Linked DNA regions of Homo sapiens: all the other regions are reported to be linked to region 3. The links are microRNA targets in miRTarBase. Many come from high-throughput screens and were not tested one by one. Region 3 holds a microRNA gene; each other region holds the end of a gene's coding sequence.

Region 1 (10,288 bases), not on the chromosome of region 3:
CTGGGCAGAAGATGATGGAAGGGCCACTGATCAGCCATTGGTGTGTCCTTTGTGCTTCATGCAAGGCCAAGCAGTGATTCACCCAGCCCTTCCCATAGGCCAACCGAGGCGGCTTCCGTTGTGCCTGAAGTTATATCAGCAGCAGCAGAGCCAACAAGTACAGTATAGTCATTTATTTTCCAACTTCCCCCAGCAACCTCTATTTTATCTAGCTTCTGACTTGGAGTCAAGAGAACTGGGCTTCTGCATATTTGTGTATAAAACACACTTGTCCTTTATTTTTTTGAGACGAAGTCTCACTCTGTTGCCAGTCTGGAGGGCAGTGGTGAAATCTCGGCTCACTGCAACTTCTACCTCCCGGGTTCAAGGGATTCTCCTGCCTCCTGAGTAGCTGGGACTACAGGCACGTGCCACCACGCCCAGCTAATTTTTTTGTATTTTTTAGTAGAGGCGGGGTTTCACCATGCTGGCCAGGATGGTCTCAATCTCTTAACCTCGTGATCTGCCCGCCTCCGCCTCCCAAAGTGCTGGGATTACAGGCTTGAGCCACTGTGCCCGGCCACACCTGTCCTTAAATGCACCCATCTGTCCATGGCCACGGTTGCTTCTTTGCCCACTAAAAATATTAACGAGATGAATGAGACTTATTCTCTCCATACTTGTTTTGAGAGTAGGGTACTGCACGTGTGTGAAAGCATGCCTGGTGTAGACATCTCAGAGTAGGGCTCATTTGGGAGCAGGCCTTCTAAGGATGTGGTATGCAGTTGTAAACAGCATATCACTGTATATAACCTGGAAATAGGCTGCTCTTCCTGGTTCTTTGACAGGGCACACTTCTATATGTTGGCTTTGTTGGCTGCTGCCTTTATGTGTGTATGTGTGTGTGGGATGGTTACTGAAAATTTGAGGCTATATATAATTTGTTGCAACAGTGAGAATGTGGTAGCAACCTGGTGTTCCTCTTGCCAACAAGAGCACAGTACAGAGGGCTCCTTTCCTGGTCCTGCTGTGGAGGGCATATTTAGCTGCTGCTAGAACATGAATTGGCACTGAAAATACATTTGCAGAATAAAGAAATGAATGAATGAAAGAATGAATGAAGAATAAATGAATAGAAGTAGGCACTTGGCTTGGGATGAAGAAACCAATATTTTGAAGCATTTTTGGATCCTTAGAGAAAAGATAGTTCAAAAGTTCTTGATTGCTCATTAGCCAAAATGAGGACACCAGGATCACACTCCCAATGAGGTCTGTATTAATTTAGGACAGTGGTTCTTCACCCTTTTTCGGTCATAGACCTCTTTTGGAATCTGAGCCCTCAGTTTAGGAAAATGCACATGTTGAACATATACACACATTTTTGCATGTAACTTAATTGTAGGAAACTCAGAGACCCCTCCCATGAACTCATTTGGCCCCCAGGTTAAGACCCCAATAATTTAGATGAATAGAATTTGGCAGTAAAGTGGCAAAATGGAGAAAGAATTGAGGCTAAAAACTAGATTTCAATTATAGTCTCCTGTTTCTAATTAGCTCTGTGAATATAATTTCATTACTCGAGGGTTCAGTTTTCTCATGTGAAAAACAAAGGGGTAGGCTTAATTCTAACCAAAGATTCATCTGGTGTCAGCATTCTGGAAGGAGAAGCTGCTGGCACATTCCACAAGAACATCACTTCTTCCACCAAGCTTTCTCTGCTGGTTTTCTCCTTGGTACACATCGCTTTTTTTTGTACTTTGAAAAGAAGGCTTTTTTCCTCACCAGGTAGGCTCCTAATCAGGTGGTACTAATTTTAATCTAACTCAAAAATCTGCACAGAGGCCATAGCTCTCCGGTCGCCTCCCTTCTTCTTCCTTCCACGGTGCTCTCATAGATATCAAAGAGGACTTCAAACAAATCAGCTGGGCAGCAGCGGGGCGGGTGAGAGGCAAGCTGGGGGGGACATCCTGGCACTGCCTATTCAGGTGAACGGATTATAGCTCATCCACTTTCCTCTTTGCTTTCTCCTGGACTGGCATGAAACAGAAATAACAGTTGTAACCACCACAGGGAGGAACTCTGCAGTGTGTTGGCTGCAGCCATTCTTAGTTCTTTGCCAGCGAATCCACTAACTTAATATTTTTCTTTGTATTGCAGATTTACTATTCTTTTAAAAAACGGGAACTTTATGTCTCTAAATACCTGGTGCTTTTTACACAAAATTAAAAGCAAATTACCTCAAGGGAATGTTTACATTCCCTCAGACAAGCCAGCCACAGTTATTCAGTAATCAGTGGTGTCCCTTCCCCATCCCCAAAAGCAAGTGCCTGTATCTGTTTTTTTCAAAGATCATAGTATGATGCCAACATCCAGGACTTGCAGCCCCTTTACAGTGGCCCCACTATGTGGTGATCAGCTTCATTTTGATGTCCTAAAATGACTGGTAATTAACTACCTTCTGTGGCAACTCATTGTATTTGTAGCCCTAATTCTCAGGCTCAAATCTACTTCTCAGTAGCTTTACATCCCGAGCCCTAATGCTACTGTGCGAGATTGCTGAATTACAAATAATGTCTTGAGTCTCTTTTCTTTGCCAGGCCTTTCCAAGAGTGCTTTCCAAATGTCATCTCTCATCTCATTCAATCCCCACAATATACCTGCAATGTCACTCAAAGGTAGACTCTACAAGAGCAGATTTTAAAAAATCTGATTTGTTGACTGTTGTGTCCCCAGCCTCTCGAACAGTATCTGGGCGATATTTGGCACTCGATAAGTATTTGCTGAATTTAAAGACATTTACTGATATTATCCCCATTTTACAGATGAGAAAACAGAGTCACAGAGGTCAAACACTACTATAAGCTACAGGGGTACTTTAATAGGATCCAAAAGAATAAAGCCATTATGAGGAAGATAACATTTGTGTCCAAGAGGTTCTGCCTCTTGCCACACCCCCAAGACAGCTGCCCATTCCACCTTTTCTTGTGATGGACACAGCTGAGCTCTGTCATTGACACTGGAGAAAAGTGGTATCATGGTCCCATAATGCCACTTACGATTGGGTGATGGTTAGTTAGAATTAAAGGGTCAAGGGTTACCAAGGTCCTCATTTGGAGCGGTATATTGCATACATAAGCGTGGCCATGGAGGATGGCATCTGATTATCACACTTCTGACTGAAAACTGAGGGAGTAAAAGGCAGAAGGTAGGAAAGGCAGAAGCAAACACAAGCAAACACAAACCACAAACCAAATTAAAGCAAAACAAACATCAAAGAAACTAAAAACTCCAAAACCCAAAACAAAGTAAAACTTATGAGCTGGAACAATGGAGAAACATTTCACGAGGGTTTGTCTTCCTTTTTCTCTGAAACAAACTGTACTTCTTTTAACCTGAGGAGCCCTGATGCTGCTTGTTGAAATGTTGCTGTAGGCTAAACAATAATGCCCTATTTCAAGTATCATTTTCTTTCTTGCGAACACCACATTCCCTGTGAATTGACATCTTCTTCTTCCACTAAATGAGAGAATATCACCCTTACCTTGACTTTTAAAAATTTTCCTTATGAATGGCCAAAAAAGTCCCAGTATCACAGTTTTTTAGTTGACCAGGAGCAATATTTTTGATGAATCGAATATTTTCTTTGGTAAACAAACAACAAACACCAACTAAAAACCAACCAAGTAAGTTTCTTTGGTAAAGTGGACGTTAATGTCTTGGTTGGAATTAATTGAAAGAAAAAAAACACAGCTTCTTCAAGTGTTTGCAGGGATCAATTTTTCCGTCTTTATAGCAATTCAAAAAGTAAAACTTGATGAAGTAAAGACTTAGATTTTATGGGGATGTGATTCTGAGTTACTTCTAAAGTGTCTTCTCCATAGCGGGGCTAAACCAATGCAGCAGAGCAATAATCAATAATCAGTATTAACAAATAAATAATAATTATCTAACAATAAATAATAAATCTTGGCATGCATAATCTCCCAATAGAAAAATTCATTTCACAGTCAGAATTCCATAAGCCTTCATTTCAAGTGCTGAAAAGAGAAGTTGACAAGTTTGAAAATGCCCTTCATTAAAAAATACAATATCCCAGGGTATACAGAGACTCAATCAAGTTGGAAAACTATTATCTGTCATAAAACAGAGTTCCACAGGAAGTCATTCTGGTTGACCAAATTGAATGATTAAATTCTCAACAAAATCCATTTAATTGGTGTGTGTGTTGTGTCAGGTTTTGTGGAGCTGCTTTAAGCCGAGGTGCTCCACGTGGCTGACACTAAATCAATGACTGATTTAGAACACACTGTTCAGAAAATGATTTAGCAACACATGATTTAACAGTAAAACCAATCCCCTCTTCAGTTGTGTTTTATGAATAATAGCCTAGTTGCGGGCCCCTTGGAGAGAGAATTGATCGAAGATCTATTATGCAAACTTGCCCTTTTGTCAGGACTGTACTTGCCCTCAGATTAAAGCTTATTATCTTCTAGTTGAGTGTATAACACGTTGGTATGATCACTTAGTGTGTCTGCAGAGAAGACTGAACGACTGTGTAATGCATTAGCTACAATCCCCTGCACATGTATTTAGAACTGTATGGACAACAGTACGTGAAATAGAAAGCACAGGTTTGCACTTGGTGTGGTTACATCTGAATTATTTGGCCTTTTGGAAAGACAATGGCAAACCTAAACCTCAAACATTTTAATTCCAGACACTAAAAAAATGTCTGCCCTGTGGCCAACGAAGTCCTATGTTCCTACTTTGGAAATGCATTTTGAGAGGAGTAATAGCCATCTTATGAGAATACTGAAAATTGGACTGCCCTGTCTTAGGTATGCTGAAATGATGAAAACCCTTTAGTGGTGTGACCTGAGTGAGTCACTTTATTCTCCTAGGTCTCAGTTTCCTCCTCTGCAGAAGATAGGTAAGCTGCACAGTATGTCTGCTAAGGTTCAGAAAGGTAAGATGCTTTTGGGAAATGCTTACCACTACAGATGTCTAAGGAAGCTACATCTCTAAAAGGGAAAAATACTGTAGATATTTGCTTCAAATGTAACCAGGTTTTAGCTTCATTTTTATAAATTTAAAGAAATGCAGGGGCCTGGGCAACGTATACAGCCTTTTTAGATCTAAACCATTTCTGTTTAGATCTATGAACCATTCTTCTGTAGATACTGGAAGTCAAGAGTATAAATATCTAGGCTTGTTAATTTACAGAAGGGCCTTGCTATGATGACGCAGAAGGACATCAAAAAAGGTGTGGGGGGGACCAGCAAGGTGAGGTGCAGCCACTTTAGCAAGAGAATTGGACTGCCATCATTGATAGATTTGTATCAGTGAATACTTTTTCCAGTGTTTTCCATCTATCTCCCTTTTGGCCCTTTATCTCCCTGCACTTTTACAAAGCTTCTCAGCGTCAGGACTTAGACTTACCAAAGATCTTCTTCCCCTCTCTGTCTCTGAGCAGGTGTGTTTCACAGCAAAGGCAGACTGGCACTACAAGTTGGAAGCAACAGCAAATAACTATTTCAGTGTTCATTTTTTTTCCCCGCAGTTTTGTGTGGGCAGATGTTTCTGGATATCCATGCAAAAAATGCATGTAGGGCCAATGCAAACAGCTGTACCAGCTGGCTATTTTGTTGTTGTTGTTAAAATGGAGACACTATATCTGGGTCCAAGTAGACACCTGCTTTTGCTCCATCATGCCAGGTATTTGGGTTTGGCCCTGTGGTTTTGGGTCCCTGGATCCTCCTGCCAAGAGCTGTAACTAATAAAGCAGACCCATTTGGTGACAAGTGACAAGCTATTCCAAAGTAGAATCACACCAATTCTGCAGTGCTGGAGCTGTCATTGGTTTTAAGGTGTTTTAAGCAAACCAAACTATACAAATGTTAAAGGCATACCAATGGCGGAATATGATAATTTCATTCTAGACAACGAAACTGCTTCACCTGGGTAAATTTAGCGGTGAATCAATTTTAGTCCATGAGTGATGGCCACTCTACCACATATCAGTTTCCAAGGCTCTGGCTTGCTTTTGCTGGTCAGAACTTTCACAAGTATCTCCTTCAGTGTTAGGGAGCTAGGTGAGACAGCTAAAACCTCAAACCACAGACCATGACTGGAGCTACTGCTCTACAGAAGTTCTGGAAGCCTTATTGTTTGAACAATGCTTAAAGGTGTTTCTGCCTTGGCAGTTGACCTTTCAATCAGTGGGTTTTGTCACAATGCCAGCAACATCTGCAGTTTGGATAAGGCAGGATCCTGCTTGTTAATAAGCTTTCTTCTACTTGATCTTAGTTTAAGAGACTATAGGTCTCCCAGGGTGTGTGTGTGTGTGTGTGTGTGTGTGTGTGTGTGTGTGTGTCTATGTGTGTGTGAATTCTCATAACAACTCCTTTGTTTTAAAGACTGAAAATATGCCAGGCCCATTTCTCCCCACTGTCCTTTCCTTTTTTTTTTTTTTTTTTTTTTGGCAATGCCTGTTTCCTATCTTTAAAAAAGGGAAGAACTTTGAATTTAATTGTTTCATTAACATAATCTCTTTGGTCTTGATAAGACCTAAGGTGAAAATATGCCAAGCAGACATTATCACACTGTTGTAATTTGGTCAACCACACGGGTACTATCGATATCTACCATTTCTACACACTCAATTTCCTCCCGGTTCTCAGGATTTTTCTTCTCTTTCCTTTTTTTCTTAGAGGGTGGCAGGAAAGTCAGTATCACAGGTAAAATGGCAAAGCAGTGAAAGAAGGTGACAAATGCTATTAAAAACAAGCACCTGAACAGTGTACAGGTCAGATTTGAAGGCACAGCTGCAAGAGGAATCAGACCAACAATATAGCAGAGGTAACTCTGTAAAATAGCTACCCCATGCACTTCCAGGGCATTTTTTACCCATTTAGTTCTTGTGAAATCCTTGCCCAGAACAAATGTGGATAACATTGGAGCACAATTGTCAATTGTGTAATTAATTCCATAAATTAAGCATAGCACAGAAATGCAGTCCAGTTCTACTTTCCATAATGTCATGAAACCTATCACTCCAAACTCCACGGACACAACTGTGAGAGTGATCCAGACGTTAATCAGTGAATCTGCCACCAGGAATGCCGAGAAGAAGAGCAGGAACAAAGCACTGATGCAGGAGTTGTGCAGGGGGGCTCCCAGAGAGGAGGCATATCGATCCATGTATACAAAGGACGGATTGAAGACGATGAACTTCACCTTGGAGGTGACAGAAAGTCTCCTCAGGGTTTCCAAGAGATCATAGAGTTCTTCTCTGTTTGTTTCCATGGTCTTGGCCACCAAAAACATTCTGGAGGCCACTACATCGACCTCATCATTGTATTTTTTAGAGAAGATGATGTCCTCTTGAAAATGTGAAAATTGAGGGGCTTTCAGAAAGGAATTCCTCAACATGTCTGTGAAATTTTTCTTAGGCAAGCCAGTGGATACATTGAGTTTCCGAAGGTAATTTAAATAGCTCTCAAACCAGGATATCCGCACAAACCCCTTGGTGTATTCTAGAACATCTTCTTGGACACTAGTGTTCCAGTATTCTATAGACTCATATATGTAAAACCCAATCACAGGACTGTAGTTGCTGAAGTACTTTTGCTGGGCAGTAGTGTACTCAATGGTTTGTGTCGCGGTTGCTACAATGTTACTAAGGTCTGACCCTTCACTGACCTGCAGATAGCCCATTAAGGCAAAGGAAATATAAATAAGGTAAAAGAGAACTACAAAAGGCTTGACATAGGTGTTGGTTATCCAGTCACAGTAATAGCGTTTGAGGAAACATACCAATAGGTGACTCTCGTAAGTGTTCGCTTCCTCGCCTTCAGCTGTGTCCTCACTGAATCTGGCCGTCAGGAGAAACCTGTACCATGCCGGCTTCTCCTGCAATGCCTCAGGCTTTGGGACTTTTCTACAGAAGATACTATGCTGGTAATTGTTTTCTATGTAGCCAGTGAACACTAGGCTGGAACCATAAAACGAGAGTACATAGAGGTAGTTGAAGAAGATTGCAATACAGGAATTGCAGCAGAAAATCCTGGCTGCCTCAATGTTCGTGAAAGGGCTGGCCCCTATGCCAAAGGTGACCAGGTACATGGCAGTGGTGAGAGAAAAGGAGAGCATGGAGTCTGCATAGACTGCTGCAGTTCTCTCTTTAACATGTTGGTCTTCTCTAGTTTTCCTCCAGGAGGATAACATTTCAAAAGTCCCATATAATCCATGACCTAAGAGGGCAGAAAAAGACCAGAGCAGAAGTTTAAAGAACTAATCTCTTAAGAGGGAAATCAACTTGATTATGAGGGACTACTGGGTCAAAGGAAACGTAATCAACCCTAGTGGTGACGGGTATGTAAATGCCAATGATTTCTCCTATGCGGAGATAGACCCATGTTTTTATGAATCGTAAATGTTAATGGATAACGAAAGGGCAGCTAGAGAAGCAAAGATCTTCATATTCCCTCTGGCTTAAGAAAGTTCTCTTCTTTGGAGTGTTCCACCAAACAAACAGCACTTAGATGAACTTTTGCCTATAGAAAGCTGAGTAGAGCCAGTCATGGTGGCTCATGCCTGTAATCCTAGCAACTTGGGAGACTGAGGAAGGAAGATGACTTAAGACCAGGAGTTTGATACCAGCCTGGGCAATGTAGCGAGACCTCATCTCTCAAAAAAAAAAAAAAAAAGAAAGAAAGAAAGAAAAAAGAAAGAAAAAAAAAGAAAGAAAATGAAACAACTTAGCCAGGAATAGTGGCTCATATCTGTAGTCCCAGCTACTTGGGAGGCTAAGGCAGGTGGATCTCTTGAGCCTCGGAGTTGGAGGCTGCAGTGAGCCATGATTGTGCCACTGCACTCCAGCCTGGGCAACAGGGCAAGACCCTGACTCTAAAAAGAATAAAAGCTGATTAGACTTGTGCATATGTCTCTTGGGGATTTTTCCCATTAATAGCTTAGAGTTATTGGTGCAGTTTGGTTGGTGGAACGCTCCAGAGAAGAGAAGATGTCTGGACACTCATCATTTTGCTTTCCGTCCCCACAAGTCTGGCTAGGGGTCAGTGCAGAGGAAGATAGTGGGCAGAGGGTTCTGAGTTAATGTCCTGTCACCTCATTTAAAATTTGCCAACTAGAGGGTTTTAGTGATAAAGAGGCAGTGTATTTCATTTGAGTCTTGACAGGAAACTAAATCACAGCCCCCTCTGTTTTCCCTCCCCAAATATCAGGGCAGGAAGCAATAAATCTTAGAAAGAGGGAAGCAAAATAAGTAGGAGTGAAGAAGTTTCAGTGAAGAAAATACAGAAAAAATAAGATAAATATGAACTCTCCTGGTTATTGATAAAAATTAGGATTCAGGTTGAAGGTTTATGACTTGCAATTTGTCTTCAGGGATCTGTTTGACCAATTTGGTTATTCATACATGACTTATCAAGCAGTGATATAATACGTCAGCAGCGACTCTGCTAGCTTCTCCGCGCTATTTGATAGTGGCATCTGTGGGAAAGAGCCAGATCAGTAACCCCGCTGCGTAACTGCTTAGTGCCTTCGCCTCCTGGTTTAGTATTTCAGCAATACTGAAATAGCAGAGGTACAGTAAATGCTCATGTTCTAAACTCCATTCTGCTGCCTGGAACCTGATCTAGCATGACTTCTACCACCTCTCGTAGTTGGAGCCAGACATTTCCCTACTTCGAGTCCCTGTGTTTCCAGGCCACTGCAACATTGGAAGGCTCACCAAAGTGACCCGTTGTGGATTTCGATAACTCCTGTCTTGGCAATGGGGATCAGCAGATCTAATTTCCTGCTTCCATCGCCTTGGCATATTCAATCCCATTATTGAGGATAATAAAATCTTTACCCTGTGGTACAATAGTCTTGTATTTAAAAAGGAATTTAAAATCTCCAGCCAAGCATAATGCTGAATAAAGTGAGTCACTGTTATCTTGTGTGTACAATAGCTAGGTGTACATCTTCCCTCATGCCCAAGCTAGTATTTATATCCTTATTGTGAAGTCCTGGCCTCATACCTGAAATGCCCATTTCAAAGTAATGATTTAGGCCTGTTTCCTCAGAGGAATTTGGCATTTATCTTAATTGACTAGGCATCGTTTTACAGCCACTTTTAGAAGTCAGGTCAAGACTGTCAATTTGTTAACTAGCACCGAGGCCCCTATTAAATTGAAGGCACCTAAACTCCCCAGATATGAAGTAAAAAGTACACTCATTGACTGGCATCCTGTTGTTAATTATGCTTAGGTATTAACATCTAGTCTGGAGAGGGAACATGATTAAA
Region 2 (10,345 bases), not on the chromosome of region 3:
GCCAGGAGCCCAGGCTCGCAGTCAGCAACTCTTCCTTTCCCATTAACTCCCATAGTCTTTCACAAATTCCTATTTGTCCTTTTTTCCAAATGCCTCTTGCATTTTTTTGAAATGTAACAATTTATTGATCAATATAAATGAAATAAAATTTAGAATTTATTTCCAACTTTGCTATATTGCATAGTAACGAGACTCCATCTCAATAATTATGAATTTCCATATCTAAATCCAAAGATTCTTAGATTTGTAAGAATTTGGAAGTTATTTTCTATCCTCCCATTTTATAGAAAAGCAAACCAATGCCTGGAAAATTAGGCATATTTTAAACGGTCTTACATTAATTAATTGTAAAGAGAGTAATATAATGAAGTCTCCTGTCTTCTAGACAAGTGTATTTTTTTTTTATTTATTTAAGTTCTAGGGTACATGTGCACAACGTGCAGGTTTGTTACATATGTATATATGTTCCATGTTGGTGTACTGCATCCATTAACTCATTTACATTACGTATATCTCCTAATGCTACCCCTCCACCCTCCCCCAACCCCATGACAGGCCCCGGTGTATGATGTTCCCCTTCCTGTGTCCAAGTGTTCTCATTGTTCAGTTCCCACCTATGAGTGAGAACGTGTGGTGGTTTTTTGTCCTTGCAATAGTTTGCTGAGAATGATGGTTTCTAGCTTCATGCATGTCCCTACAGAGAACATGAACTCATCCGTTTTTATGGCTGCATAGTATTCCATGGTGTATATGTGCCACATTTTCTTAATCCAGTCTATCATTGATGGACATTTGGGTTGGTTCCAAGTCTTTGCTGTTGTGAATAGTACTACAATAAACATACATGTACATGTGTCTTTATAGCAGCATGATTTATAATCCTTTGGGTATATACAGTAATGGGATGGCGGGGTCAAATGGTATTTCTAATTCTAGATCCTTGAGGAATTACCACACTCTTCCACAATGGTTGAACTAGTTTACAGTCCCACCAACAGTGTAAAAGTGTTCCTATTTCTCCACATCCTCTTCAGCACCTTTGTTTCCTGACTTTTTAAAGATCGCCATTCTAACTGGTGTGAGATGGTATCTCATTGTGGTTTTGATTTGCATTTCTCTGATGGCCAGTGCATTTCTTACTTTTCTCTCACTCCCTCTGCCTTCATCCTAGGCCAGAGCCTGCCCCTGGGCTGGGCTCCCTATAGACCCTTTTCTAAATTATCGTTCTACTCCATTCATCTATTCCTTCATTCATCAGAAGAGCATCTGTGGAGCACTTAGTGCCAGACACTGCGCTAGACACTAGATGCACCCGTAACACAGACATGGTCCAGCTGGGGAGGCAGGTAATTGACAGGCAACTACAGTGTCTTGGGGTGAGTGTGATGATGGAGGAAGCCCTTAGCTGGGACCATAATCCAGATGGAGAGGCGTGTTAGGGGGGGGCCTACACACTCCTACTGGTTTCATTGTCCTAAACACTTTTATCCTGTTTCAACTAAAATTGGCTTTCTCTTACTTTTGTTCCTTTGGGTTCAAACTTTGTAGCCTGAGATTCTAAGGCCTTTCTGGTCAACCCAGGCCCATTCCCAGGACTCTCTAGCAGAAGAGGTAGTAGTAACAATGATAGTAATAATAGCACATCTTCATTAAGCTTATTTATCTTAAATAACAGGCCCTCTTCTAAGTACTTTTCTTAATGTTAACTCTTCACAACATTCTCTATGAAGGAGGTACAGGTACTATAATTAGCACCACTGACAGAAGGGAGTCATGAGTGCTAAAAGGCAGAATCTGGGTTCAAATCCAGGTGGCATGGCTTCCAGGCTGGCATGTGATGATGACACCATTGTGTATCAGTGTAACCTGGCCGTGTGGACCTCAGACTCTAAATCATACATCCTAAGTTCTCCCCAAAGACCTTTTTACTCCTGGTCCCCTCTCCCCTGAGAATGCCCTTCTCTTTCTTATCAAACCCTATAGAAGGCTTTATTTTCACTTTCTTGATGTTATCGTTTGCAGCACAAAGCTTTTTAAATTTTAATTAAGTATAATTTAGCAATATTTTTTATTAGTGTTTTCTGGTTATTGTTTAACCTAATTCCCTTTTCCAATTGTTTGTTTAGATTCCCGTCTTTGTTCTTGAAGATTTTAAAACCTAGTGATCCTTGATTATCTGTTCATATTTAAGAAAGAAACAGATTGTGGCCGGGCGCAGTGGCTCACGCCTGTAATCCCAGCACGTTGGGAGGCTGAGGCAGGTGGATCGCGAGGTCAGATTGAGACCATCCTGGCTAACACGGTGAAAACCCGTCTCTACTAAAAATACAAAAAATTAGCCGGGCATGGTGGTGGGCGCCTGTAGTTCCAGCTACTTGGGAGGCTGAGGGTGAATAGCAGAAACTCGGGGGGCGCAGGTTGCAGTGAGCCGAGATCACGCCATTGCACTCCAGCCTGGGAGACAGAGCGAGACTCCGTCTCAAAAAAATAAAAAATAAAAAAAACAGATTGTGAATGGAAGCCCGACGTGCAAGGGAAAGCTCATCAGCTGATGGGCTTCACTGGAGGGCAGAGCTTCCCAACCTTTTGTGCATCAAGGCATACACAGAAAATGACAATAGCGGTGAGGTACACTGGGGGTAAACTGGTGGTGATTTGGGTACCCATAATGGACTTAGTAAAAAACTCCTGCAGGGCTGAGCCCGATGGCTCACGACTGTAACCCCAGCACTTTGGGAGGCTGAGGTGGCATCAGCTGAGGTCAGGAGTTCGAGACCAGCCTGGCCAACATGGAGAAACCCCCATCTCTACTAAAAATACAAAATTAGCCAGGCGTTGTGGCTCATGCCTGTAATCCCAGCTACCTGGGAAGCTAAGGCAGGAGAATTGCTTGAATCCGGGATGCAGAGGTTGCAGTGAGCTGAGATCATGCCACTCTCTCTAGCTGGGGAAACAGAGTGAGACTCCATCTCAAAAAAAAAGAACACAAAAAACACAAAAAACCCAAAACAACAAAACCCCTGCAGTTTCTTTACATAAAATAATTGAGGAAAATGTAATAAAATATAAGCTATTAGTAACAATATTAAAACATTTAATTAAAATAAATTCTTTGAAATCTTCCACAAACACTTTTCAAAAATTTTAGTGAGAAACTTGAGCTTGATTCCACTAATTTAACAGGTTTGATGGTTAAGCTAGTTACATGTAATTCCTAAGTATTTTTAAAAACAATCTCTTCGGCCGGGCCCAGTGGCTCACGGCTGTAATCCCAGCACTTTGGGAGGCTGAGGCAGGCAGATCCCGAGGTCAGGAGTTCAAGAACAGCCGGGCCAACATGGCGAAAACCTGCCTCTATTAAAAACACAAAATTTAGCTCAGCGTGGTGGCGGGCACCTGTAATCCCAGCTTCTCAGGAGGCTGAGGCAGGAGAATCACTTGAACCCGGGAGACAGGTTGCAGCGAGCTGAGATCATGTCACTGCACTCCAGCCAGGGTAACAGAGCAAGATTCCGTCTCAAAAAAAAAAAAAAAATAGCTGGACCTGTAGTTCCCTATTTTGGAGACTAAAATGGAAGGATCACTTGAGCCCACAAGTTTAAGCCTACAGTTTAGCTGTGATCACACCACCGTACTCCAGCCTGGGGGACAGAGTGAGATCCTGTCTCAAAACAAAATCAATAAAAGCAGTATGTATAGTTGCTATCAACTATATAGAAATGGTTTTCTCCAGGTGAACTCTGGTACAGAAGCCAAGTCACATGGTACAATACAGGTATGGATATAAGGTCCCATAAAGGAATGACTAGAAACCAAATCCACAGAATGTTATTTTCAGTGAGAACAAATTACTGTCCCCCCTCACAAGGAAACTTAGTATTGCAGTTATTCCCATCAAAGTATATTTCACATTGGAGCTCAGTTGTGGTAATGTTTAAACTTGAGTGGATACTCATGTTGAAGATATGTTCATTGCCTTTGCTGTTACCAATCTATCCTGCTGCTCCAACCCTTTAACCACGAAGATGATTAGATATTGATCTGTCCAGAAGATACCTGTAAACTCATGCCTATTTCTCCAGACGAAGACAATGAGCCAAGTTTTTCTTCTCGAGGTCTTACAGTCCTTGTTCTCCTGTAATCCTCTATACCCAGCTGAGCACATCTTTTGACTGGGAGCTGCCTTAACAGCCCGTTGGTAAGAAGCCTTCCCAATAACGGGTAACACAAAACTTTTATATTATGTGTATCCGTTAAAATAAAACCTATTTAATACATCAAAGTGGCTCACAATCTTCATCTCCATCATCTTCATGTTGAGTAGGCTGAGGGGGTGGGGGTGCTGGTCTTGCTGCCTCAGGGGTGGCAGAGGCAGAAAATTCCTGTAAGGAGACCCACACAGTTCAAACCCATGATGTTGGTCAACTGTTATTTTTGGTAAGTTTGGGTATTTATCTTTCTACAACAGTTCAATAGTTACAGGTGTCTTTGGCAAAAAGACTATTATTTCTGTGAACCTAGTATCTAGTTAACTACAGCTTGAAATTCCTGCCAGATCCCTTCACACACATTTTATCTTGCTCCTTTATTAACCCTGCCAACTTCACCTTCTAAGGGCTAACAGTGATTACCTGGTCTTGGCTGGGAATGGGTGGCTCACGCCTGTAACCTCAGCACTTTGGGAGGCCGAGGTGGGTGAATCACCCGAGGTCAGTAGTTCGAGACCAGCCTGACCAACACGGTCAAACCCTGTCTCTACTAAAAATACAAAAATTAGCCGGGCGTGGTGGTGCACGTCTGTAATCTCAGCTACTTGGGAGGCCGAGGCAGGAGAACCGCTTGAACCTGGGAAGTGGAGGATGCAGTGAGCTGAGATCGTGCCACTGTACTCCAACCTGGGCAACAGGAGTGAAACTGTCTCAAAAAACCACACACACACACACACACACACACACACCAACGAACCCCCCCCCCCACCAAAAAACAGTGATTAACTGGTCTCTTAGTACTAACGTGGGATCCCATTTCAATTCATCTCCTCTTGCCAGGCCAGTAAAGCTCTTGAAATAGTTTTAACTTCATCAACTGATTACTCATGGGGAGAAGGGATTATTTTGGGTCTTGTCTTGCTAGTAAGGGACAGAGTGAGTGGAATAGAACCAATCCAGTATTCTTGTCACTTTTAAGTCTTTACATTATATATTAAAGATTACACATAATAATCCTTTACACTATATACAATAATCCTTTACATTACTGTAGTAGCATTCTGGCTTTTTGATGACATTTGGCATAAGCTAGCATTAAGTCCAATCCTACAAGAGCCAATCAAAATCCACTGAGATGGCATGCTGAAGGAATATTGGAGGCGTGTCCACTGCTAATAAATCCAGCCTAATCCATCCTCAAAATTTCCATATAATTTACAGAAATTTTGATAATGCAAACCAAATCTTTTTATTTCTTCTCGGTGAAACTTCTAATTCTCAATTTCTCCTCCTGGGCCTTGCAGAATTGGAATCCTAGTCAATGGTGTAAGAGGGCTAAGAGCTATTAGTTTTATCTTAAGGCATATATTCCTTATGTAGGGGCAACAATGTAAACATTGCAGACCTTGAGCATTCTCTAACATGTAGTTAGATTTCCATAAGGAAATGTGCAAGCTAGATCCCTCTCAAGCGCACTTCACAATAGGATTCCTGCTATGAAAATCTGCTGTTGCTGATCTGACAGGCGGCGGAGCTCAGGCAATCCATGGCCAGGAGATCGGAAACCCCTGCTCCCAGGTCTACAAATCTTTTGACACAGCCTTATTTCCACTTGCTGGGACCCTGTTGATTTCCTGAGAAGTTTCACAAAAGCCTAGTATAAAACTATTTAACTTAGCAATCTTCCAAATGAACTTTACATTTGGTTTTAGTAGTCTCAGCCCTACAGCTATAAGAAATGGATTGTTTGTATTGGCATATAAAAGCCTCCAAGTCCCTTTGCCTTGAGGCAGTAACTTTAAGACTCAAATTTATCCTTTCCCATGGCTTTTGTCTGATTCAGCTGCCCATGGCAGCAGTTACCTAGGGGTTACCTACGGGTAACTGCTGCCTCCCTTTCATGAAACTGGCGACTAGCATTACAGCACATCAAAAGACTACCACTTTGTCTCACTACTTCTCAGTCTATCTCAACTTGGTAAAATTCCAAATTTTCCTCAGTCTTTTGCCTGTTAACACTCTTTGTAGCCATGTCAAATGGCTAAAATTCTTTCAAATCTAAAAGCCAGAAAACAACTCAAACTAGCCTAAAAAAGGAAACTTTCAATCAGCAGGATAAAGGATGGCTACACAACTAAAGGGCTAAAACTCAGGCTTTAGGATAGAAACCGAGGGTTATGTTCGAGATTATCAGGAGTGTGAACTCGCAAGCCATCAGTTAACTGATGGGGAGAGGTTTGGTTGGGGAGAAAATGGTGGAGAATGTAGTTACTTCAGGAAAGGATGCCTGTATATACTACCACGATAAAACCAGGTTTCTCAGCCTTTAATGTATCCATCCATAACACAACCCCCTCTGGGACCACACCCTAAAACTCAACTTTATATATAAATACTACAAATTCTTGTTTCAAAACTCATTGAGAACAATTTGAAATAACCCATCAGGCATATACTAAGTTGTTTCCACATGCTTATCAGAAACAAACCTAAGGGTAGTTCTCTAAGCATATTAATTTACCACAAGTTGGCAAACACTGAAAACACCCTGGACAGTAAGTTTTACAAATTAAGACCTGCCAATACTGCCTATGCTCCATTACTGGTATTTTCCATCACCCAGGTACCCAGATTTGAGACATCATGATCAAGAGAACTGTGGACTAAGATCACCTAGGTTCAATTCAGATCGTGGCATTGCCACTTAAACAGCTATTTGAACTAAGGTAAGTTACTCTACATCATTTCATTGCTAAAGATTATATGTAAAGTTCTTCCCAAAGTACCTGAAACATACTAATACCTAGATGCGATAAAGGTTAGCAAGGCAACAAAATAACCCACCTGTAGCAACATCCCTACAATTGGTCATGAAAATTACTTAAATGCAAAATAATAAGAACATGTATTAAAGTACCCGCAGTCTAGTTATTTACTGTAACTCCATCCCCAAATGGAGATCACTCTAATACCTAGTTATGCACTCTGAATTTTCCAGGAATACAGAAATTCATCCCCCCCTCAACCCAGCCCAAAATAGCAAAGATACACCTCAGCCCAAGGAACACACTGCCCTAACGATTAAACTACAGAAGAACTCTAATTATAATAGAACAAGAACACTTCTTTGTGAACAGCTGCACCAACATTTTTCTTTTCATTTGCGTTTATTTAAACACAGTTCTCAAAACATTTGAGTGAAATTGGGCCTCCTTTGGTAAGCAAAGGACCTGAAAATAATATTTAAAAAATGAACAGGCAAAGTCTTCAGTTCATCCATGACAGGTATAGTGTTCCCTTATCATGTACTTTGAAGCACCCGGTTTTTTCATATAGTCTAAAAGCTAGAAGAACAAGAGTGTATTTGTGGTGGAATGTATTGTCACTTGCTGATAACTAGTTGAAATACCATTATCCCCTTGTAACACCTTTAAGAAACAGCCTTTTAAGGCATACACTGTGTAACTCTTCGTATTTCCTGCTATACATATTACAGATTACATAAAAGCCGACAAATCCACATTGATATAAGCATTAAGCACTGGCTGTATTTTAAGATTTTTAGTTCTAATACTAGCAGTACAGAGTTACAGAGCATAATTTTAAACACTTAGTTGCAGGTATATAAGTATGGTATGTTTCATGGACTGGAGGAAAACGGGCATTTGTCTTTAAATTTACTACTGACAATCTGAATAGTTCTGCTAAGCATTGATATGTTAGAAAGAAAAGTAAAAATCAAACTGTTTATTGTTGCTTTTTGCCATTTGGTAGCATTTTACACAGGCTTCGATCTTCAGAATACCCTGGATTCAGTAGAAAAACCTTTTAAATGAAGTTTTGTACAATAGAAACTTCTCAGCAGTCAAAATTTAGACTGTAAAAAAATACATGCAAAACATACTTTTCTGAAAACACTTAACTTGGAACAAAGCACCAAACTACACAAATGCAGAATGAAAACAGCATTTCAACTCCACCAAAAGTAGTCATCGTAAAAGGTGTAAAAGTCACCTAACTTCACTAGGCACTGTTCACTTTTTAAACAAGAGACAATAAAAAATATTGCCCACAAACAATATCCCAGCTCTAGGGCAGGTTTCAGAAAGTCTTCATGCTTTAATAGCGACCTGGGAAGAAAAGAATGAACATGCTTTAATATTAAGTGAACTAATTATCAAGTATACTTTAATGCCGAGAATTTCAGAATATTCTGCCATTAAGAAATTCCTATGTGCCAGAACCCCACCACCCCCAAATAGAGAAAGACTTCCATGTAAGTATTACACCAGAAATGAGATAGCAATCTTAAATAACAGAAATTGCTGGGAAGTATATAACTCAATCTGAGAACTAAAGGGCTAAGTAATCCATGTTTCTGTGCTGTCCAAAAATTTTTAAGGACTCTTGAAAAGCTACTAAATGGTGGAAATACATTATTTACTGTTTCAATTAGAAACAACAGGAGTCTCTGAGCCTACTCTGGGTAAATGGTGGAAATACATTATTTACTATTTCAGTTAGAAACAACAGGAGTCTCCGAGCCTACTCTGGCTCAGGAGGCTGTCCAATTTTTCCTTCTTAAAAAATAATAGGATTCTAAGGGTTGTTTCCACAAACTTTCTTGAACCAAAAAATGTTCAGGATGTGTGGAGAATCATTAGGTATGAAACTACCTGAAACCAATCCATTATCTGATAAAGGGAATACACTGTCATCAGAGCAAGCCATACTACAATATAAACAATCATATTAAGATAAAAACTTACGAGGTGAGTATGATCGAGATCTGGAACGTGATCTGTATCCTCCACGACTATAGTAAGGAGAAGGTGACCGCCTTCTATAAACAAATGTCAAGATTGTCTAAGTCTCAATAGATCACAATTAGACCAAACATATAAATTTATGACTATATATACTGCCCTTTCATCAGTTCCCCAAAAAAGGAAAGCTGCATGAACCTTCAAGGTCTGTTTAAATCTTGAGAATGAAGCACATTATCAGGCCCAAGTGTCAAATAAGCACTCTTAATAACTTTAAGGTCAAATAATCCTTGCTATATTTTAATCTACTTACTTTTTAAATTTTGTGAACTATGTTAAGAGAGTTTTGTAAAAGAAAATTCCTGGCTGGGTGCGGTGGCTCAACGCCTATAATCCCAGCACTTTGGGAGGCCAAGGCAGGAGGATCACTTGAGGCCAGGAGTTTGACCAGCCTGACCAACATGGTGAAAACCTGTCTCTACTAAAAAAAAAAAATTAGCTCTGTGCGGTGGTGCATGCTTGTAATCCCAGCTACTCGGGATGCAGAGACTGCAGTGAGCTCAAATTGCTCCACTGTACTCCAGCCTAGGCAACAGAGCAACACTCTGTCTCCAAAAATTAAAAATAAAAATGAGAAAATTCCCATACCATTAAATAATCCCAACAGCACCCTCTTGAACACCCAAAACTAATTTCACAAGTGCTTCAGGATTTAGCTTTGTGTTAAAAAGGCTGGCTTGAATGTTCTTGTGCTATTTGAGATGCTTACTTTTAAAAAGCAAGGAAAATGTAATACAAGAACATAATGACAAAAAAAATGAGTTATCAGTGACTAACATCACTGTACCTCATCACGGTATAAAATGGTATCACTAAATAATCTATTGCAAAACCAATTAATTTTTATAAATATACAAAGACTTTATACATTTAGTTTCCGTTAGAATATTTTCATGAGCTTCAAACAGTCTGATTTTGGGTATTCCACTTATAATTTACCAAAACATTACTAGGCAAACATCTTTATGTGAAGCTTTATACTGTTGTACAGATGCTAAGTCCTCTCCTGGCATACCTATAAATCTGATCCCTGTCTTGGGCAGCTCTCCATCCTCCTCCTCCTCCACCTCCTCCTCTGTGAAGACAGAAAGGCAACACAACACGCATTCAGTTTGTAAGTTTTAAAAAATTATGTCATTCATTTAGTAAAATAAAAACTTTCATAGAGCATGAATGAGATGTTTCTTGCAGGTCAAGTGATTTGCCACCCTTTTTAGAAACTGGCATAGGGTTCTCTCTGGTGGCTGAAATAAGTAGTATTAGAACACAGAACATTCCTAAGTAAATGCTCTTAAAAAAAAAAATCAAACT
Region 3 (10,345 bases):
CACCTCCTGTCCTGCTGCTCTGTCCTCTCTGGGCAACTTCTATGTCCCCAAGCTATCTCTTGTTTCAGAGAGTCCCCTCCCAAGTAGCATTCCAGGTCTCCCCTGAACTACTGTCCTCCATCATGTGTTTATCTCCAGTGTCCCAATCCATCAGGACCTCGCATGGGCTCTGAATCCATTAACTGGCTGTGTGACCTGGAAACCAACTTATCCTCTCTGAACCGCAGGTTCCTTAAATGTAACTTGGGAGTGCTAATGTCCAATCCTTTTTTTTTTTTTTTTGAGATAGAGTCTCACTGTCACCCAGGCTGGAGTGCAATGGCGCAATCTCGGCTCACTGCAACCTCCACCTCCTGGGTTTAAGTGATTCTACTGTGTCAGCCTCCTGAGTAGCTGGGATTACAGATGCACCACCGCGCCCAGCTAATTTTTATATTTTTAGTAGAGTCAGGGTTTCACCATGTTGGTCAGGCTGGTCTCAAACTCCTGACCTCAAGTGATCCGCCTGCCTCAGCCTCCCAAAGTGCTGGGATTACAGGCATCAGCCACCACTCCCAACCATGCCCACATCATTTGCTGCTGTGATGATGTCATGAGATGACAAACAGAAACATCTCCTTCCTCCTTCCTCAGTGGTGGTAACTCTCCAGGGTGGGGTGAGAGGACTAGGACAGACTCCCCACCGTCCCCACAAGTGACTGCCTCTGCCTCAGGCCAGATGACCCTGACTCAACCCTGCAAGTTGCAGGAAAGCTGAGCCTAGTCTCTCTCTCCAAGAACCTGGTCCCAAAGAGAAATAGTTCCTGCTGCCAGGGTTCCATGGCTTTCCACAGGTGACCTGTAAGGTCAACTATCTTGAGCCGATAGTATGAGCCGCCATACTATATGGTGGCTCATTTAGAGCCTGTAGCAGCTGGATGGAGACTGCCCACAAAGAACAGGTCAATTTGGTCCATCTTTGCCTTTAGTAGTTGCTTAACAGATGATTTTTGTGGACTTAAACCAACCACCCTGATCGGAACCACACCTTTGTTCCCTTTTCCTAGATGAAAAAAAATGGGATTCTTTGCTATGGCACCTACATGGAGGCCACCTGAGGGGCTCTGGCCAGGAATCCAGGTGTTGAGTCCTTCAGAGTTGTTACCTGGGAGCCACAACCATGAAGCATGTCTGTCCTTTTACAGGTCTCTTAAAACCACCTTCCAAACAGCCACTTCCAAAGTCATACAGCCATTAGGAGAGCTGACTGCACTGATTTTTACCCTTTGTGCTACTGATGTCAGAGGCACAGTAAGCAGATTAGAACAGGGGCGAGATGCTACCTTCTGGCACTTCCTGCCAAAATTTGCCTACAGCACATGGATGGCTGTTTAGAGGTAAGCTAAAAAATCTGGTGGAAAGTGCCTGGAGTCATTTGGGATTTTGAAAACATAAGTCGGCCATGTGTCACTGACACTGCTGGTTGCCTACTTAACATGCGTTTCTCACCCACCCTCCTTTCCTCTTTCGATTCAGAACAGCATCTGCCCTCCTGTGCTCAGCTTTGTGTTTCACAAGGGGTTGATCACAGCCCCAGCCCAAGGGCTGAATCCTCATAGGTCCAAGCCAATCATGGGTTCCCAAACCCTTTGTTGGTAATTGGTTTAGATAAGGGTATGTGACATTGTGACATAGATTTCTTTTTTCTTTTTTTTTTTTTTTTTTTTTGAGACGGAGTCTTGCTCTGTCGCCCAGGCTGGAGTGCAGTGGCACAATCTTGGCTCACTGCAACCTCTGCCTCCCAGGTTCAAGCAATTCTCCTGCCTCAGCCTCCCGAGTAGCTGAGATTACAGGTGCCCATCACCACACCCGCCTAATTTTTGTATTTTTAGTAGAGATGGGGTTTCACCATATCGATCAGGCTAGTCTTGAACTCCTGACCTCGTGATCCGCCCGCCTCGGCCTCCCAAAGTGCTGGCATTACAGGCATGAGCCACTGCACCCGGCCTAATTTTCTGTCATTATAAGCCACCCAGTTTGTGGTAATTTGTTACAGCAGCCCCAGGAAACAAAAATACCCTCTGTCTCCAGCCTCTACCCTCTTTGTTGTGTTGGCTTCTCTTTTTCTTCTGGCTATGGACCAACCCCTGTACTCCCTAAACCACAAAGCTGCCAACAGCTTGCATATTTGACACCTGTCAATCAAGCTTCCAGAAAGAAAAACAGTACCCTCTGTTTTCCAAATCCAGTTCTCCATGAAATAACTTTGATTGGCCTAGCTTGACTTGCAAGCTAAATTTGGTCCAATCAACTGTGCCCAGTGGCAGACTGGCATTGAACCAAGATGGCAACTCCTAAAGTAGCCATATGGATGGGAACAGAAGATACAGGGAAATTTCTAGAGTAACAAGTGTCCGCTCCAGTTATCTTTAAATAGTTACTCCATAAACACTGGCTTCCCTGGACCATGTTAATCTTTTATATTTTCAGGTATATCTATCGATAAACAGTGAGGCAAAGATAAAGAAAAAATATGGATCTTAAAAAGCCAGATATCTCAGCTGATCAGTGAAAGTCTTTGAAAAGGATGTAATGGACACCAGTACTCTTAGAAGTAATAATGGCATAATTTATAAAGTAAATAATTTGATTGTCCCTACTCCAGCTGTCTGCGTGGAAAAGTGAATTGAGGGAATCCAGCCCCGTGCAAAAGGGCTAACAGGAGCAGCCAAATAGGGCCAGGTGCGGCAGCTTACGCCTGTAATCCCAGCACTTTGGGAGGCTGAGATGGGCAAATTACTTGAGGTCAGGAGTTCTAGACCAGCCTAGCCAACATGGTGAAAACCCATCTCTACTAAAAATACAAAAATTAGCTGGGCATGGTGGTGGGTGCCTGTAATCCCAGCTACTCGGGAGGCTGAGGCAGGAGAATCTCTCAAACCCAGGAGGCAGAGGGTGCAGTGAGCCGAGATTGCACCACTGCACTCCAGCCTGGGTATCAAAATGAGACTCTGTCTCAAAAAAAAAAAAAAAAAAAAAAAACACTCTGATAAAGAGCTGAATAGATACAAATAAATAACCCAAATATACTCTTGTTTGTCTTAGAGACAGTAAGCTAAATCTGATCAGAAATGACTGAAGCAAGTCCAGAGATGCCGACAGATTAGTACTTCTACACAGGCAGTTCTTGTGTGCTGAGGGATGAGATACTTGCAGCAACTTTGTGGCCATTCTCTTAGACCACTGAGTAATAGGCTGTGCTGATAACGACTCATAAAACCTTCAGACACAAATTTTGTAATTGCACCATTATTACAAATTGTATTGTCTGACATTCCAGGTTTCTTGTAAATAACTGATGTAAAGCCTCAATCATTAAAGGGGAGGTTTGAGATAGGATCAAAACTATCTTAGTTCTTTTTGAAAACGTCTCTTGCAGTCAAATTATTCCCCAGGAACGTTTCTGTACTATCAGCATGTTTTAAAAAAAAATCTAGATCACTTCTTTTTTTGAGAAAGGGTCTTGCTCTGTCATCCAGGCTGGAATGCAGTAGCGCAAACATGACTCACTGCAGCTTTGACCTCCCTGGGCTCAGGTGATCCCCCCACTTCAGCCTCTTGAGTAGCTGGGACTACAAGTACACACCACCTCGCCCGGCTAATTTTTCTATTTTTTGTAGAGATGGAGTTTTGCCTTGTCCTGAGCTCAAGGAATCAACCACCTCATCCTCCCAAAGTGCTGGGATTACAGGTGTGAGCCACTGCACCTGGCCATAAGTTCCCTCAGGGGTTTTTCTCAAGTTGCCTACAATAATCATAAATACAGCCTTTTCAGTGGCAGACTTATTCTATGGTCCATGATGGTTTACTGAAAACATAGGTTCCTTCCTGTCAATAACTTTCCATTATACTGTTATAATATAGCCAAGATAATATGGTAAAAATATGTTGACATGATAAATTTTTCCAATAAAATGCATCCTTTGCATGCAGACAATTCATACTTATTAGTAAATAAATTTCACTCTTTGGGCAGTTTCTGTCTAGGTCACCCCTTCAATACCAAGTTTAAGGCACAAGCTGATCTAGCATCACACAGGCAATAAACAAAAAACTATATTGTATCTTCTCTTCAACAGAGAATGAGGTAAGGCTCCCAGGATCCGCATGTCCTGTAAAGCTGACAAGGAGCATGTAGTGTGAGGGCACTTAGTGGGCAGTAGTCATTGAGCTCTTCAAGGATTCCCCAAGAGAACACAGGAGTTGGGTTGGAAGGGAAGACTCCCACAATTCCTAAAACAGTGCTGTAGTTCAAGGATAGTTTTATTCTTAGAAGAGTCCCTAGAAAGTCAAATGATAGCTTGTCGGAAGGATTTAAGGAACTAATAATCCACATGAAGTGCTTAGCACAGCACCCGATGTGTGATAAGCATTCAGTATATGTTAGCTAGTCTTGTGATTTGAAGTGGCGGTAGGATTTCTTAACATCCATGATAACTGTTGGGGCTTCCATCTTGGTATCTGTGCAGCTGCATTCTGTGAGTGACAGTGTTCTTGGGTGGAAGCAGCTGGTACCTAATGGCCATCTGGCACTCTGTGGCCAAGCACAACTCCAGCCCTATAGGGTGGAGCGATTACATCAATAAATAGTGGCTGCATTCACAAAATCCATGGGCCCTGTCTGGGAAGCCAAAAACCTGCTTGACAGCCTGTGCTCTTGTTACAGTAGGTAGCTAGCCAGCCATGAGCAGGGCAGGAGAGGAACCCTCCCAACCACCAGGAATGTCAGGCAACCATCAGGTGATGGTAAAGCATTTGTTACACTGTCTCCCTAAATTAATCTTTAGGTCAGTAAAAAGTAATTGTGGTTTTTGTTATTGGTTTTAATGACAAAGACCGCAATTACTTTTGCACCAACCTAGGAATTGGTCACAGCTGGTGCCAGGGAAAGGCAGTCTCCTAGTAGAGAGAAACACCTGAAACTAGCAATCAGCAGCTTCCCAGTGAGATCTCTAGAGTTGGGTGAGTGGGCTCAAGTATGTACACTAAGGGGCAAAATGACGGAGTTTAACCAGTATATGACCTTCCTCCAGGAACACTGGTAAGGGGAGAATGCCTCAAGTGAGCATGCACACAACTCCAGTTAAATACACTGCACATGTGGCCCCTCCCAAGTGCTGGCAGGCCACTGTGCACCCAGACAGCCCATCCCAAGGAAGAATCAAGAAGAAGAGATGCAGAGCCCGGAAGCATGCCATTGTATAAAACCCCAAGTCAAAGGTCAAGCAGTGCACTTGACTCTCTCAAGTCTCCCGCTTGGCCCTCTTCCAAGTGTACTTTACTTCATTTCGTTCCTGCTGTAAAGCTTTTTAATAAACTTTCACTCCTGCTCTAAAACTTGCCTCTGTCTGTCACTCTGCCTTATGCCCTTTGGTTGAATTCTTTCTTCTGAGGAGGCAAGAATTGAGCTTGTTGCAAACCCATAATGATTTGCCACTGCTATCACTGTCCAGGGCCAAGGAATATCCCTTTCCAGTAGGTGATAACATGGCTCAGTAATGGCTGCCATTTACAAAAATGCAAAAGAGGCCTGGCGCGGTGGCTCACTCCTGTAATCCCAGCGCTTTGGGAGGCCGGGGCAGGTGGATCACCTGAGGTTGGGAGTTTGAGATCAGCCTGACCAACATGGAGAAATCCCGTCTCTACTAAAAATACAAAATTAGCCTGGCATGGTGGCACATGCCTGTAATCCCAACTGCTCAGGAGGCTGAGGCAGGAGAATCACTTTAACCCAGGAGGCAGGGGTTGTGGTGAGCCAAGATCGCGCCATTGCACTCCAGCCTGGGCAAAAAGAGCAAAACTCTGTCTCCAAAAAAAAAAAAAAAAAAAAAAAAGCAAAAGAAAATGAGTAGCTCTGGCAGCAAGGCTATGGCACTTCCTTTATTTTTCAGTATTTTTTAGTAGATTGAACAGATACTATGCCTGCTTGATTTCAAGTGCTATGGATCCCTGAATGGTAGTCATGGTAGCAGAAGTGAAAATAGGAAGTTCCACGATATATATATTTTTTAATTTCCCACTTCTATGTCTGATTTATCTTCATAAAACAGGACATTCTGATTTTGTTCTGGGTAGTCTTTCTCTGTTGACCTCATCATTGAAACACAGTGCTACCCCCTTGGACTCCTAGAAGAGAGGTTGTCATCAAAGCATTAGGAAGCTTTAGGAACCCCAGGAATTCTAGAAAGCATCTGAAGGTCAGCGATTGGACATCTGTTGATAAACTTGGGCGGAGTCAACTATTGCAAATAATTGCCCCCTCCCAGAAAATATTAGAGGGTGCTCACTAGCCCCAGGCATCTGCCATGGGTGCTGCCTTCTCACACAGTGTCTGTACATGTCCCCAGTTACACTAACATCTTTAAGCTCAAAGAATCCCAGCTCCTCCAGGGACTGCAGTGGGAACCTTGAATAGATGACCAACCTCCATCAGCCTGTTTCTTCATCTGCAAAGTGGTAAAATAGCTTTATTCCACACGGTTGTTTTAAGGTAGAAAAATACAATATATAATAATTATATATAATATAGTTTTTATTGTATAAAAATACAACATGCAATGTAAATAAGTATGTATAATATTATATATATAATAATATAATTGAGTATTTAGCACAGCACTAGCCAGATAATAAATGCCCAATAAGTATATGGAAGAAATAGAGAAGACAACTACCAGTGCAATTCTTTTTTTTTTTTTTTTTTTGGGACAGAGTCTCGCTCTGTCACCCAGGCTAGAGTGCAGTGGCGTGATCTCGGCTCACTGCAACCTCCACCTCCCAGGTTCAAGCGATTCTCCTGCCTCAGCCTCCCGAGTAGCTGAGATGACAGGCACACACCATCACGCCCGGCTAATTTTTGTATTTTTAGTAGAGACGGGATTTTGCCATGTTGGCCAGGCTGGTTTCAAACTCCTGACCTCCAGTGATCCACCCACCTCAACCTCCCAAAGTGCTGGGATTACAGGTGGGAGCCACCATGCCGGGCCTACCAATGCAATTCTTAAAAACTGCTGAGTATGTTTTACTGATCTAAGAACACTTCGTTACGCTAGGTCGAGGATTTATAATTTGAGGTTTATGGTGCCTTAGAGAAACTTACTTAAATTTTATGCGAAATGATATATTTATGGGCGTTTCTCTAGGGAGAAGGCGCAGAGTTTTCACCAGATTCTTAGATTCTCTGCTCTGGATAAGGTTAGGAACCACCATGGTTTCTATTTCTTAAGCCCACACCTCACTCCCATTAGGATGTCTCCTATCCAAAAAACAAAAAAAAAGGCCAGGTGCAGTGGCTCATGCCTGTAATCTCAGTACTTTGGAAGGCCAAGGCAGGTGGATCACCTGAGGTCAGGAGTTCGAGACCAGCCTGGCCAACATGGCAAGACCCCCATATCTACGAAAAATACAAAAATTAGCCAGGAGTGGTGGCTGGCACCTGTAATTCCAGCTACTCAGGGGGCTGAGGCAGGAGAATTGTTTCAACCTGGGAGGCGGAGGTTGCAGAGAGCCAAGATTGTGCCATGGCACTCCAGCCTGGACCACAAGAATGAAACTCCTTTTCAAAAAAAATAATAATAATAACAGAAAATAACAGAGATTGGAACATTATTGTATCAGGCTGCTCAGACTTTCATAATAAAAAAAAAGCTCCAGACTGCAGGTCAGGCATGGTGGCTCATGCCTGTAATCTCAGAGCTTTGGGAGGCCAAGGCAGGCTGATTATTTGAGCCCAGGAGTTCTAGACCAGCCTGGGCACCATAGTAAAATCCTGTCTCTATGAAAAATACAAAAAATTAGCTGGGCATAGCGGTGCGCGCCTATAGTCCCAGCTACTCAGGAGGCTGAAATGGAAGGATAGTGGAGTCCAGGAGGTAAATGTTGCAGTGAACTGAGATTGCACCACTGCACTCCAGCCTGAACAATTGAGCGAGAGCCTGTCAAAAAAAAAAAAAGAAAAAACCAAAAACCTCCAGACTGGGTAGCTTAAACAACACAAATACATTTTCTCACAGTTCTGGAGGCTAGATGTCCAAGATCAAGTTTCTGGCTGATTCGGTATCTGGTCAGCTGATTCAGTATCTCCTCCTGGCTCGCAAATGGCTGCCTCTTGCTCTGTCCCTACAAAGCCTTAGTGCCTTCGCATGGAGAGAAAAGGGCTAGCTCTTTGGTGCTCTTCTTTTATTATTATTATTATTATTATTATTATTATTATTATTTTTTGAGACAGAGCCTCGCTGTCTCCCAGACTGGAATGCAGTAGTAGTGTGATCTCAGCTCATATCAACCTCTGCCCCCACGGGTTCAAGCGATTCTCCTGCCTCAGCCTCCCAAAGATCACAGGCATGAGCCATGGCTCCTGGACCCCATGCTTTTACAAATGAGGAAACTGAGTCGTAGAGAGGGTTAAGGAACTTCCTGAATAGAAATAAAAAGTAGGAATGGGAATCAAACCTAGGCATTTGGGATCCAGTGTGGTGGCACGCACGTGCCAGTAATCCCAACTACTGGGGAGGCTGAGGCATGTTTCCACGACAACAGGCTATCTCACAAAAATGTAAGTGTCTCATGAGTCTCTAAGTCATCTCGGTTTAGGGACCAAGCCAATTGTCTCTGTAATGCTTCAGTTTTAATATATGCACTGTCAAAGTGAGCATGTATAAAAATGTACATTGTCAGCTATGATAATTAAATCCTTGACTCATCTGAACACTCCGCTATAACAGCAAGCATCACGTCATTTTGTAACTGTCTCTTAGCTGGTCCACCTCCTCTACCTCCTCCACTAAACCGCGCATTCCCTGACAACAGGGTTGACTTGTTCCCGTCTTAACCCCTTGTCTGATACAAGGTATTATGACCCTGGATATATACAAGTTAGATCATTTTGCAAGTGAGACTTGTACCATTTATAAGGACAAATACTCATTTTATATTTTAGTCTTACAAGGAAAAAGGCATCTGAGAAAATGTAGGGCATATGCAAGGGCCCCCACAAATTGAGCATAACACAATTCTGCAGATGTCTTGCTTTGTTATTGTTGTTTGGGGTTGTGTTTTTTGTTTTTATTTTTTGCTTGATAATAAGATTAAAGCCTCATATATATGTCAGAAAGTAGGGTGGCTGAATCTAATATCTTAGCATGTCCCATATTTTAAGCATAGTAGCTGCTCTATTTTCCAAATTAACTTGTTGATCATTTAAGTATCAAGAAGCCATGTGGTCCAGTCAGAGAAACATGCATCTCACAACTAAAAGTTGTGACTTTTAGTCACAGGCAACTTCAGGCCAGGCGCAGGGGCTCACACCTATAATATCAGCACTTTGGGAGGCCAAGGCAGGCAGATCACTGGAGGCCCAGAGTTCGAGACCAGCCTGGCCAAGACAGGGAAACCCCAGCTCTACCAAAAATACAAAAATTAGCTGGGAGTGGTGGCGCACGCCTATAAGTCCCAGCTACTGGGGAGGCTGAGGCAGGAGATTCGCTTGAACCTGAGAGGCAGAGGTTGCAGTGAGCCGAGATCGTGCCACTGCACTCCAGCCTGGGCAAAAAGAAGAAGAAAAGCAAGGGAAGGAAAAGAAAAGAAAAAACAGAAAAAAAGAAAAGAAAAGAAAAAGCAACTTCAAAATAATTCAGATCCTTCCCTTGTGTTTCTCAGAAGCCATGAAGTAGGGCCAAATAAATGTTCCAGAGCAGCCCTTATTAGAAAGCCCTTTCCTTTTCTAACCTCATACTCTAGCTGCTTCAGTGCCTCCTTCTACACATTTTTGGTGCTCATCTGGATCAAAATGTTGGAATAACACCACAAATTTATCTTCTCCCCAATCTCAAACTCATAAAATGCTACTAAATTAATTTAAAAGGCATAAACCTTCAATGGTAGAAGGAATAGCAGGCAGATCACACACAAGAGATTTCAGCAAAGCTCTGCAAGATGAGGAGCACCTGGAGAAGAGTAGCTACTGGGTGGGCTGAAGAAGTCCCAGCCAAGAGTAAGGTGCTCAGCGTAACACCAGGGAAGGATGTCAGCAAGTCTCGCACAAACTTAGAGAGACTTGGGATTCAGAAATGCTTGGTGGGAGTGAAATGCGAGCTGAAATAGAAAATTATGGAAGATGTCCATATGGAACAAGTGGACTCACCACCAACGTTCAAATCCACCCACTTCACATGCCCCTGTGGAAACACCAACACCTGGGAGCAATATATATTCCCTCCAGACGAACAATCACACAACCTCTTTTTCAAGAAACTGAATGTTCCAGAGGAAAGAATTCTGTGTTCTAGCCTTTAGGGGCCCAGGATAA

What was found. Region 3 holds the annotated microRNA hsa-miR-548ap-5p (AAAAGUAAUUGCGGUCUUU, at 4,871-4,889, opposite strand). A microRNA usually pairs through its seed, bases 2 to 8, with sites in the 3' UTR of a target mRNA and lowers its output. Matches are read on the target gene's strand: a 7mer-m8 pairs with bases 2 to 8, a 7mer-A1 pairs with bases 2 to 7 and ends in A, and an 8mer does both.
Region 1: the mRNA of PTCHD1 is a reported target of hsa-miR-548ap-5p. Seed matches in the 3' UTR shown: 7mer-m8 at 3,781-3,787 and 7mer-m8 at 3,282-3,288.
Region 2: the mRNA of TRA2B is a reported target of hsa-miR-548ap-5p. Seed matches in the 3' UTR shown: 7mer-m8 at 7,937-7,943 and 7mer-A1 at 7,118-7,124.

Annotation. Positions count from the first base shown.
Region 1 is chrX:23,390,474-23,400,761 of GRCh38, reverse strand. PTCHD1 (patched domain containing 1) reads right to left here. Exons shown (of 3, transcript NM_173495.3): 3 at 1-8,231. The coding sequence ends at 6,577. Among named protein-coding and RNA genes, the nearest start is that of PTCHD1, 61 kb to the right of the region's middle.
Region 2 is chr3:185,909,388-185,919,732 of GRCh38, forward strand. TRA2B (transformer 2 beta homolog) reads right to left here. Exons shown (of 9, transcript NM_004593.3): 7 at 10,050-10,109; 8 at 8,978-9,051; 9 at 5,171-8,338. The coding sequence ends at 8,328. Among named protein-coding and RNA genes, the nearest start is that of TRA2B, 23 kb to the right of the region's middle.
Region 3 is chr15:85,820,199-85,830,543 of GRCh38, reverse strand. MIR548AP (microRNA 548ap) reads right to left here and starts at 4,909; the gene lies at 4,814-4,909. It also overlaps the pseudogene RNU6-231P.